2 linked regions of the Homo sapiens genome follow. The protein of the gene in region 1 purifies or fractionates together with the protein of each later gene. This does not show direct contact. Each region holds a gene or a part of one and is shown on either strand. Other genes may lie near its edges.

Region 1 (2,810 bases):
AGAGTCCCATCTCCAACGGTCTGTCTGTACTCCATTGTGTTTCTTAAATGCAAACCAAACAGATCAAGCAGATGAACACTCTATTATTTTTTAGGTCTCAGTCCCAACCCTCAGTGTGCACCACTTGGATAGATTGCGTGGGACCAGAAGGAGCGCTGGACTAGGAGTCCTTGGAGGCCCCCTCTCCTTACCCCCAGGCCTCATTTGGGTTCCAGTAAACTTTCAAAGGGTTTGGAGACGATCAAGGGAGGGAACTTCTTTCCAAGTGGAAGAAAGCCTTGGCCGTGGCCCCACCTCAACTTCTGAAGAGTATGGTCGAAGATAAAGTTATAATCCCAGAGAAACTGGAGCTGAATCAGCTTTTTCTGGCTGGACCAGTATGTGGCTGTTCTGCTTGTGGGTAGATGCAGGGTATGGGTGCTGGAGAGCCTGAGATCCCTTTTGTCAACAACAGACACTTTATCTTACCTGCCCTCCCATCTGCCACCTGTATACACACATGGAGGGCTCCCTTTGGTGGGTTTACAGTGATCCTTCCCCCGGAGTTCTGAGTTGGAGAAAGATTTAACAGGTATGCCACTTCATTCACAACACAGCACTTTATTATGGAATATGTGCAACTTGGTGTAAGGATTTCTGAAATTCATACCATTTACAGGTATTTAATGGGTTATAAATTTTCAATGTCAGAATTATACTTAAGTCATGTTAGTAATGGTCATTCCTTCTGGCCCAATGGATTTAAATCTTCTTCTGCCCAGTTTCCTCTTCAATCAGACTTTCCTGAAAAATATATAACAAATATATCAAGACTGACTTTACCAGCTGAATTTCATTACATTTTGACATTTTAATTTCTAAAATATCAGTCTGGAAGGAATTGGTCTGTTTGATTTTGTGCTCTAGTTAGTGCTAGGGAGACATGATAAATTGGGTTTGTTTTTCTGGTTTTTTTTTTTTTTGAGACAGAACCTCACTCTGTCACCCAGGCTGGAGTGCAGTAGTATGATCTCAGCTCATGGCAACCTCCACCTTCCAGGTTCAAATGATTCTCGTGCCTCAGCCTCTCTAGTAGTTGGGATTGCAGGCATGCATCACCGCATCTGGCTAATTTTTATAGTTTTAGTAGAGACAGGGTGTCACCATGTTGGCCAGGCTGGTCTTGAACTCCTGGCCTCAAGTGATCCACTTACCTCGGCTTCCCAAAATGCTAGGATTACAGGCATGAGCCACTGTGCCTGGCCGATTGGGTCTTTTTAAGCACTTAATATACATAAAATCTACATTAATAGTTTAAGGATGAGTTGTGAGGAAGGAAGTGAAAAAAAAGTCTGGTCAATTACTTTGCTATTAAACCAGCCTTTGCTTCAATTTCTTCATAATGTCATGTTTGACAAATTTCACTGCTTGCCATTTTTGTAATGCAGTAAGCAAGATTAGAAAAAGAAAGGAAATAGGCTGGGCGTGGTGGCTCATGCCTGTAATCCCAGCACTTTGGGAGGCCGAGGTGGGCGGATCACAAGGTTAAGGGATTGAGACCATCCTGGCCAACATGGTGAAACCCCATCTCTACTAAAAATACAAAAATTAGTCCAGTGTGGTGGCTCATGCCTGTAATCTCAGCTACTCGGGAGGCTGAGTCAGGAGAATCGCTTGAACCCAGGAGATGGAGGTTGCATTGAGCCGAGATTGCGCCACTGCACTCCAAAAAAAACGAAAAAGGAAATAACGACGTCTGCCCACTTTTTTCTTTGTTCTGTGGGTATATTAAGTTGAAGTCACTGTAGACAATTAAAATTACAGCTTATTTTTATATATGATTTATTTGGGCTTTCCCAGCTCCTAGGCATAACTGATCATTAACTGTAATGCCTTCTGATTGCTGCAGATAAGTGGACAATAGAGATCAGAGAATATCAACATTGAATCCAAGATTCAACTTAAGTCAGGCACAGTGGCTTGCACCTTTAATCCCAGCACTTTGGGAGGATCTTGAGGCTGGGAGTTTGAGACCAGCCTGGGCAACATAGACCCTGTCTCTACAAAAAATTAAAAAATAAAATCAGCTGGGTGTGGTGGCAAGTGCTTATAGTCCCAGCTACTAGAGAGGCTAATCTAGTCTCCAGAATTGCTTGAGCCTGGGAGGTTGAGGCTGTGGTGAGCATTGATTGCACCATTGCACTCTAGCCCGGGGAACAGAGCAAGATCCTGTCTCAACAAATAATTTTTTTAAAAGATTCAATTTATACATTCAATTCTCTTTATACTTTTTCATCAAAAACCTAATATGATTAGTGTATTTCCATTTTGGGGGGCGGAATTTGGAGGTGATTATTGTCCTATCAGGAAACTGGAAATCAAGTCCATCACTCTCTAAATTATAAATTTAGTAGTTTGGCATTTTTCATTCCAAAGAAGAGAAAAAAAAACCCATCTACAGCAGTGTTTCTCATGTCTCTATTCCCCAAGGTTCTGGAAAACCATGTAAGATAAAGCACAGTTGCAGGATCAGGTGGAGGGCTGTGGAGTAGCCTGGAGTGGAGTAGTCTAGGGGGTTTGGTGATTTTACTTGAAGAAATGAAATGCAGCAGTGGGAAGAAATTTGTTTTGTTAGTTATCCCAAAAGCTAGAACCAGGATTAAGAGATAAAAGTTACAGAGAGATTTCAATTCAACTTCAGAAAAAACAAACAAACAAAAAAACGTTTCAGCCCCTAGTGCTGTCTAACCACCAACTGGGATTGTCATGAAACACGGTCCTACCACAGGAGGTAACAGAGGAGTCAGGAATGTAAGCCCCACAGTATCTGG
Region 2 (7,306 bases), on another chromosome or scaffold:
TTCAAAGATTTGAGCATGTCCAGTGTTCCCAAGCACTGTACGGGGTATTGGGAAGGTAAGAACAAAAAAGATGTAGTCCTTGCCCTTACAGGTCTAGTTGAGGAAAGAAAGGGGGATTGTTTTCCAGTTGCACTGAATATGAATCAGAATGAGGAAGAAAGTACTTGGAAGCCTCTAGCTGACTCTGGTACCATTCCACGGGGCCATGATACCTTTCTTAGTCTTAGTCTGTTGAGAATTGGTCATAGAGGAGGCAGTTAAGACCAAAAGAGTAGCCAAAATTGTATAGAGAAAGGTTGTAAAATAAAAAGGTGGGGCCTATACACAAAACCCTGGTACATGACAGAGCAGAAGAAGATGCCAAAAACAGGGTAATTGGAGAGATAGGGAGAGAACTAGGAAAGCATAAAGAAGAGATATACAAAGACAGCATACCAGGGTCTCTATCAGATGTAATAGTGGGATGGAGTCAGAAGACTTAGTGACCATTGGACTTGCGGATGTAAAAAGAATGGGAGGTTTTACAGAGAAGTTTCTGTGAAAGAATAAAGAAATAGAAATTGCCTTTACAAAGATTTTAGATGAGAGAAATGCAAAGGCAAGAAAGTTTTGTTGTTTGTGGTAAAATATATATAACGTAAAACCTACCGTTTAATCTTTTTTTTGGAGACAAGAGTCTCGCTCTGTCGCCCAGGCTGGAGTGCAGTGGCTCGATCTCAGCTCACTGCAGTCTCCGCCTCCCGAGTTCAAGTGATTCTCCGGCCTAAGCCTCCTGAGTAGGTGGGATTATAGGCACCCACCACCACGCTTGGCTGATTTTTCTATTTTTAGTAGAGATGGGGTTTCACCATGTTGGTCAGGCTGGTCTCAAACTCCTGACCACCTCGGCCTCCCAAAGTGCTGGGATTACAGGCATGAGCCACTGTGCCCAGCCCATTTAACAATTTTAAACTGTGTTGTTCAGTAGCTTTAAGTACCTTCACATTGACTTACAATCATTACCACCATCCGTCTCCAGAAATTTTTTCATTTTGCAAAAACGAAACTCTGAACTCATTAAACAATAACTCCCCATTTCTCCTTCCGTAGGCAGCTACCATTCTACTGCCTGTCTCTATGAATTTGACTACTTTTCAGTATCTCATAAAAGTAGAATCATAGATTTGTGACCGACTTATCTGACTTAGCATAATGTCTTCAAGGTTCATCCATGTAGTAGCATGTGCCAGAATTTCCTTCTTTCTTAAGGCTGAATAATACTCTATCTTACGTATATACCACATTTTGTTTATCCCCTTATTCATTGATGGACACTTAGATTGCTTCCACCTTTTGGCTATTGTGAATAATGCTGGTATAAATATGAGTATAGAAATACTGTTCATGAGGCTGGGCGCAGTGGCTCATGCCTGTAATCCCAGCATTTTGAGAGGCCAAGGTGGGCGGATTGCTTGAGCTCAGAAGTTTGAAACCAGCCTGGGCAACATGGTGAAACTCCATCTCTACAAAAAAGACAAAAAATAAAATAAAAAATTGGCTGGGCTTGGTGGTGTGTGCCTGTAGTCCCAGCTACTTGGAATGCTGAGGTGGAGGATTGCTTGAGCCCAGGAGCTTGAGGCTGCAGTGAGCCAAGATTGTACTACTGCACTCCACCCTGGGTGACAGAGCAAGACGCTGTCTCAAAAGAAAAAAAAAAAAAAAAAAGGCTGGGTTCACACTTGTAATCCCAGCACTTTGGGAGGCCAAGGCGGGTAGTTCACCTGAGGTTAGGAGTTCAAGACCAGCCTGGCCAAAATGGTGAAACCCTGTCTCTATTAAAAATACAATAATTAGCTGGGTGTGGTGGAGGGTTCCTGTAATCCCAGCTACTTGGGAGGCTGAGGCACGAGAATCGCTTGAACCTGGGAGGTGGAGGTTGCAGTGAGCCGAGATTGTGCCACTGCTCTCCAGCCTGGGCAACAAGAGCGAAACTCAGTCTCAAAAAAAAAAAAAATTGTTTATGTCCTTGCTTTTAATGCTTTGGGGTATGTGCAAAGAAATGGGATTGCTGGATCATATAGTGATTCTGTTTTTAATTTTTTTTCTGTTCACCAGCCTAGCACAAAGCTGAATGTTTTTAATTTTTTGAGGAGCTCCTGTATTCTTTCATAGTGGCTACACCACTTTACATTTCTCTAGCAGTGCAGAGTTTCCAGTCTTCACATCCTCATCAACAACTTATTTTCTCATTTTGGTAATAGCCATCCTAATGGGCATGACGTGATATCTCATTGTGGTTTTTATTTGTATTTCCCTAAGGATTAGTGATGTTGAGCATATTTTCTTTTGCTTATTGGCCATTTGTATATATTCTTTGAAGAAAAGTCCTTTGCTTTTTTGTTTGTTTTAAAGAGACAGTGTCTCACTTTGTTGCCCAGGCTTCAGTGCAGTGGTGTGGTCATAGCTCACTGCAGCCTGGAACTTCTGGGCTCGAGTGATCCTCTCACCTCAGCCTCCCAAGTTGCTAGGACTAGAGGAGTAGGAGTAGTCAAATTCATAGAGACAGAAAGTAGAATGGTAGGAGTTACTCCACAGTGCCCAGCTAATTTATTTTTTATAGAGACAGGGTCTCACTATATTGCCCAGACTCTTTGCCCATTTTAAAATCAGGTTGTTTGTTGTTTTGTTGTTGAGTTGTAGGAGCTCTCTATATATTCTGGATATTAATCCCTTATCAAATATGTGATTTGCAGATGTTTTCTGCCATTCTGTGGGTTGCCTTTTTACTCTTTAGAGTGTCCTTTGATGCACGAAAGTATTTAATTTTGGTGAAGTTCAGTTTATTTTTTCTTCTGTTGCCTGTGTCTTTGGTATTATATCTAATAAATAATTGCCAAACCAGTATCATGTTTTCCCTATTTTCTTCTAAGAGTTTTATAGTTTTAAGTCTCCTGTTTAGATATTTAACCCATTTTGAGTTAGTTTTTGTAGGCGGTTAGTTTTCCATGTGGACATTTCCTCAGCAACGTTTGTTGGAAGGACTGTCCTTTGTGCATTGAATGGTCTTGGCTCCATTGTTGAAAATCATTTGACCATAGGCACAAGGGTTTATTTCTGGGCTCTGTATTCTGTTTCATCAGTCTGTGCGTCTGTCTTTTTGCCAGTTTCAGACTGTTTTGTTTACCATAGCTTTGTTCTAAGTTTTGAAATCAAGAAATATGAGACTCCAACTTTGTTCTTTTACAAGATTGTTTTGGCTATTTGGGGTTCCTTGAGAGTCCATATAATTTTTTTTTTTTTTTTGAGATGGAGTTTCGCTTTTGTTGCCCAGGCTGTAGTACAGTGGCACAATCTCGGCTCACAGATTCAAGCAATTCTCCTGCCTCAGCCTCCCAAGTAGCTGAGGTTACAGGTGCCCGCCACCATGCCCAGCTAATTTTTTGTATTTTTAGTAGAGATGAGGTTTCACCATTTTGGCTAGGCTGGTCTTAAACTCCTAACCTCAGGTGATGCACCCGCCTTGGCCTCCCAAAGGGCTGGGATTACAGGTGTGAGCCACCGTGTCTGGCCCCACATAAAGTTTAGGTTGGATTTTTCTGTTTCTTCAAAAAATATTGTGATCTTGATATAGATTGCACTGAATCTGTAGACTGCATTGGGTAGTATTGGCATCTTTACAATATTGTCTTCCCATCCATGAATATGAAGTATCTTTCCATTTACTGGCATCTGTAAGTTCTTTCAGCAGTGTTTTGTAGTCTTCATTGTACAAGTCTTTTGCTCCTGTGGTTAAGATTATTCTGCTAGGCTGCTCACGGTGGCTGATGTCTGTAATCCTAGCACTTTGGGAGGCCGAGGCAGGCAGATCACCTGAGATCGGGAGTTCAAGACCAGCCGCACCAACATGGAGAAACCCCGTCTCTACTGAAAATACAAAATTAGCCGGGCGTGGTGGCGCATGCCTGTAATCCCGGCTACTTGGGAGGCTGAGGCAGGAGAATCGCTTGAACTTGGGAGGTGGAGGTTGCTGTGAGCCGCGATTGCGCCATTATAGTCCAGCCTGGGCAACAAGAGCGAAACTCAAAACAAGAACGTCTCAATTAAAAAAAAAAAAGTATTATTCTGCTATTGTAAATGGAATTCTAAAAACTTTGTTTCCAGGTTGCTCATTGTTAGTGTATAGAAATACGATGGATTTTTGTGTGCTGAATTTGTTTAGTAGCCCTAACTGGGTTTTTTTTGTGGAATCTTTGGGGTTTTCTACATATGAAGTTGTATTGTCTTCAGAGATAATTTTACTTCCTCCTTTCCAATTTGGGTACCTTTTTTTTTTTTATTGACGAATTGCTCTGACTAGAACTTCCAATACTGTGTTGAATAGAAGTAGCAAAAGCAGGCATAGTCTTGTTCCTGATCTTACAGGAAAGCTTTCAGTCTCACCATTGAATATATTAGCTGTGTGCTTTTCTCACATGGCCCTTATTATGTTGAGGTAATTTCCTTTTATGCCCACTTTGTTGAGTGCTTTATTGTGAAAGGGTATTGAATTTTGTTAAATGCTTTTTCTGCGTCAGTTCAGATTATCATATAGATTTTTTCTTCATTCTGTTAATGTGGTGTTATTGCATTGATCCGTTTTTATATGTTGAACCACCTTGCATTCCAGGGATAAATCCCACTTGGTCATGGTCTATAATCCTTTTAATATGGTGCTGAGTTTGGTTTGCTAGTATTTTTGTTGAGGATTTTTGCATCAAATGTTCATCAGGGTTATTGGTCTTATGGAATGAGTTAGGAAGTGTTCCCTGTTCTTCAATTTTTTGGGGAGAATTTGAGTATTGCATTCTTGTTTAAATATTTGGTAAAACTCATCAGGGAAGCCATCTGGTCTAGGACTTTTGTTGGGAGATTTTTGATTACTGATCCAGTCCCCATACTAGTTATGGTCTATTGAAACTTTATATTTCTGCATGATTCAGTCAGTAGATTGTGTTTCTAGAAATTTTGCTATTTCGTCTAGGTTACCCAGTTGTTTGGTGTACAGTTGCTCATAATACTCTTACAATCCCATTTCTCTAAAATCAGTAGTGTCACTTCTTTCATTTCAGATTTTAGTTGTCTTTTTTCTTAGTCATTCTAAGAACCAAATCCTAGTTTCATTGATTTTGTCTTTTTCCTGCCCTAATTATCATTTCCTTTGATTTTGGGGTGATGTATATGAGATGTCCTTTGTCTCTTGTAACAGTTTTTACTTAATTGCCATCTTGTTTGATATTAGTATATCTGTTTTAACAAAAGAACTGAGCACATTTATAGGATGACGGGGTCCCATTAACATGTCATAAAGGCAGATGAGATGAAATCAGTGGCACTGAAACAACCTGGCTTTATAAACAGAAGGTAGTATCTGCAGCCCCTAAAGGTGAAGGAAAGCTGGGATGAACACAAGTGATGGATGTAGGTGGGTACCAAATGCTGACTGAGCTTAGCTTTTTCAGCCTCAGAGGCACCTTGGTGAATGAATGGGGTGACCCTCTCAGAAGGGCTGGGGCAGGAGAATTCAGGAGAGAGGTGAAAGTGAATAAGATTTAGAGGGAGAAATAGTTTCCCTAAGTTATTCATCACAGGGCAAAGTATAGCAATGAGAAATGAGTAAGAAAGATTAAAAAAAACAAACAAACAAACAAAAAAAAAAGACCTTCAGCAAGAACAGGCTTCCCCCATCCCCTCTCCCTTTAATAAACCACCTGGCTTTTTGCAGTACAAACACCTGAAATGTAAACGTGACCCTCATGTTAAGATAGAAGGGAAGGACACTGATGACTGGCTGTGCGTGGATTTTGGTAAGTTATTCTGGCGTATTTTACAGGTAACTGTTGGTACTACGCTAATCTTGAATTGTTTTCAGTTGCAAAAGGATTGAGATCAAATTGATGAATGTATTTCCAGGTAAGATTTTTGAAGTGTGTTTAAGGTAACAAAAGTTTTTTTAGTTATAATCCAGGTGGTCTTATTCACATGTAGAATTTTCACCTAACCAAACCAAAGTACCCTAGATGATGCCCTCCTGGAGGAAGATATATACTACATGGTGTGTATCTACTAGCCACACAGATCAGGAAGGTGGTGGACAACAGGATAACATAGTAGAGGCGGGAGAGATTCCTTAGTAGTGGTAGAGGAAGGTTTGGGGGCTGTGGTGCATAAATGAGATGAGGATGAGGTTATTCCAGGCACAAAAAAGGACAAGAGCAGAAGACTAGAATTTTGAAAAGATCTAACAACTTTGGGTATTAATGTGTACATAGTTTCAAAGCACCTCCCAACAAGATAATATTTACAAAGGGGAAACATAACTGTATGTCAAGAACTGAGGAGTCTGAGATTTTATTCTGCTTGTAAGCTAATACATTGTCCCGCCAGTTTTCATGGACACTGGTAAAAGACAAGACTATTAGAGGGTTAGAGACAAAGAACAGTTTATTACTCACAGCAGTAGCCAGCATCCATTTTGCACTGGTTTCCTGAGCTCTGGATTCCATAGGGCAACATGGGCCAGATGACACCAGCACACACAGTTGTAAAACTGGAACTCAGATGAGGGTGTCTAGGTTTTTTATAACTGGCAGGAAGCAGGCCTACTTTTGCTCTGATGGTTTCTCACTTTTGTCGCTATTAACGTTTTGGACCAGGTAATTTTGCATGTGGGGGAGGGGTGTCTCTTGTGCACGGTACGATGTTTAGCAGTATCCTCCCTTCTCCAATTGTGACAATCAAAAATGACTCTAAACATTACCATTATTACCTAATTGAGAAATGCTGCTGTAAGCAAAGCTGCCCTTTGCCCTGGAGGGAGGCAGTATCTTTCTGTTAAGAATATTCACGATACAAACATTCTTGGATAGTCAAAACAAAAGGCAGTCAGTGTTTTTGCACAAAAGATGTGCAGAAGTGTGTTACCCATGGAGAATTGTCACCGAAGAGAATCCTGACACCATTAGTCTCTTTGATAAAGTTACTATCACCAGCAATGTTATATATTGACATATGCCTCCTGTAGGTACACTGAGAAAGGCATAGCATCACTTCTGTGGTATTTTTGCTGGGATGGAGTCCACAGTGATGCTAATCTGGGAACCACACTTGAGAACCACTGCTTTATTCCTAGAGTTAGCCAGTGTGTGTTGTAAGGTAAGAATAAAAGCAAATGAACTATTCCTTCATTGTATCTCTTATCTGTCCCTGACAGGCAGCATGGTGATTCATTTGATGCTTCCAGAAACCAGAGAAATCTATGAATTAGAGAAATTATGGACCCTACGTTCTT

Evidence for each region.
Region 2: the proteins of GNRH1 (region 1) and MALSU1 purify together in Homo sapiens (affinity purification with mass spectrometry; 2 studies listed by BioGRID and IntAct, with this or other methods). This does not show direct contact.

Annotation. Positions count from the first base shown.
Region 1 is NC_000008.11:25,418,678-25,421,487, forward strand, and holds the end of GNRH1 (progonadoliberin-1 isoform 2 preproprotein), read right to left. Parts: intron 784-2,810; coding exon 742-783; 3' UTR 581-741; downstream 1-580. UniProt on the Homo sapiens protein: Stimulates the secretion of gonadotropins; it stimulates the secretion of both luteinizing and follicle-stimulating hormones.
Region 2 is NC_000007.14:23,302,128-23,309,433, forward strand, and holds part of MALSU1 (mitochondrial assembly of ribosomal large subunit protein 1), read left to right. Parts: intron 1-5,740; coding exon 5,741-5,822; intron 5,823-7,228; coding exon 7,229-7,306. UniProt on the Homo sapiens protein: Required for normal mitochondrial ribosome function and mitochondrial translation. May play a role in ribosome biogenesis by preventing premature association of the 28S and 39S ribosomal subunits.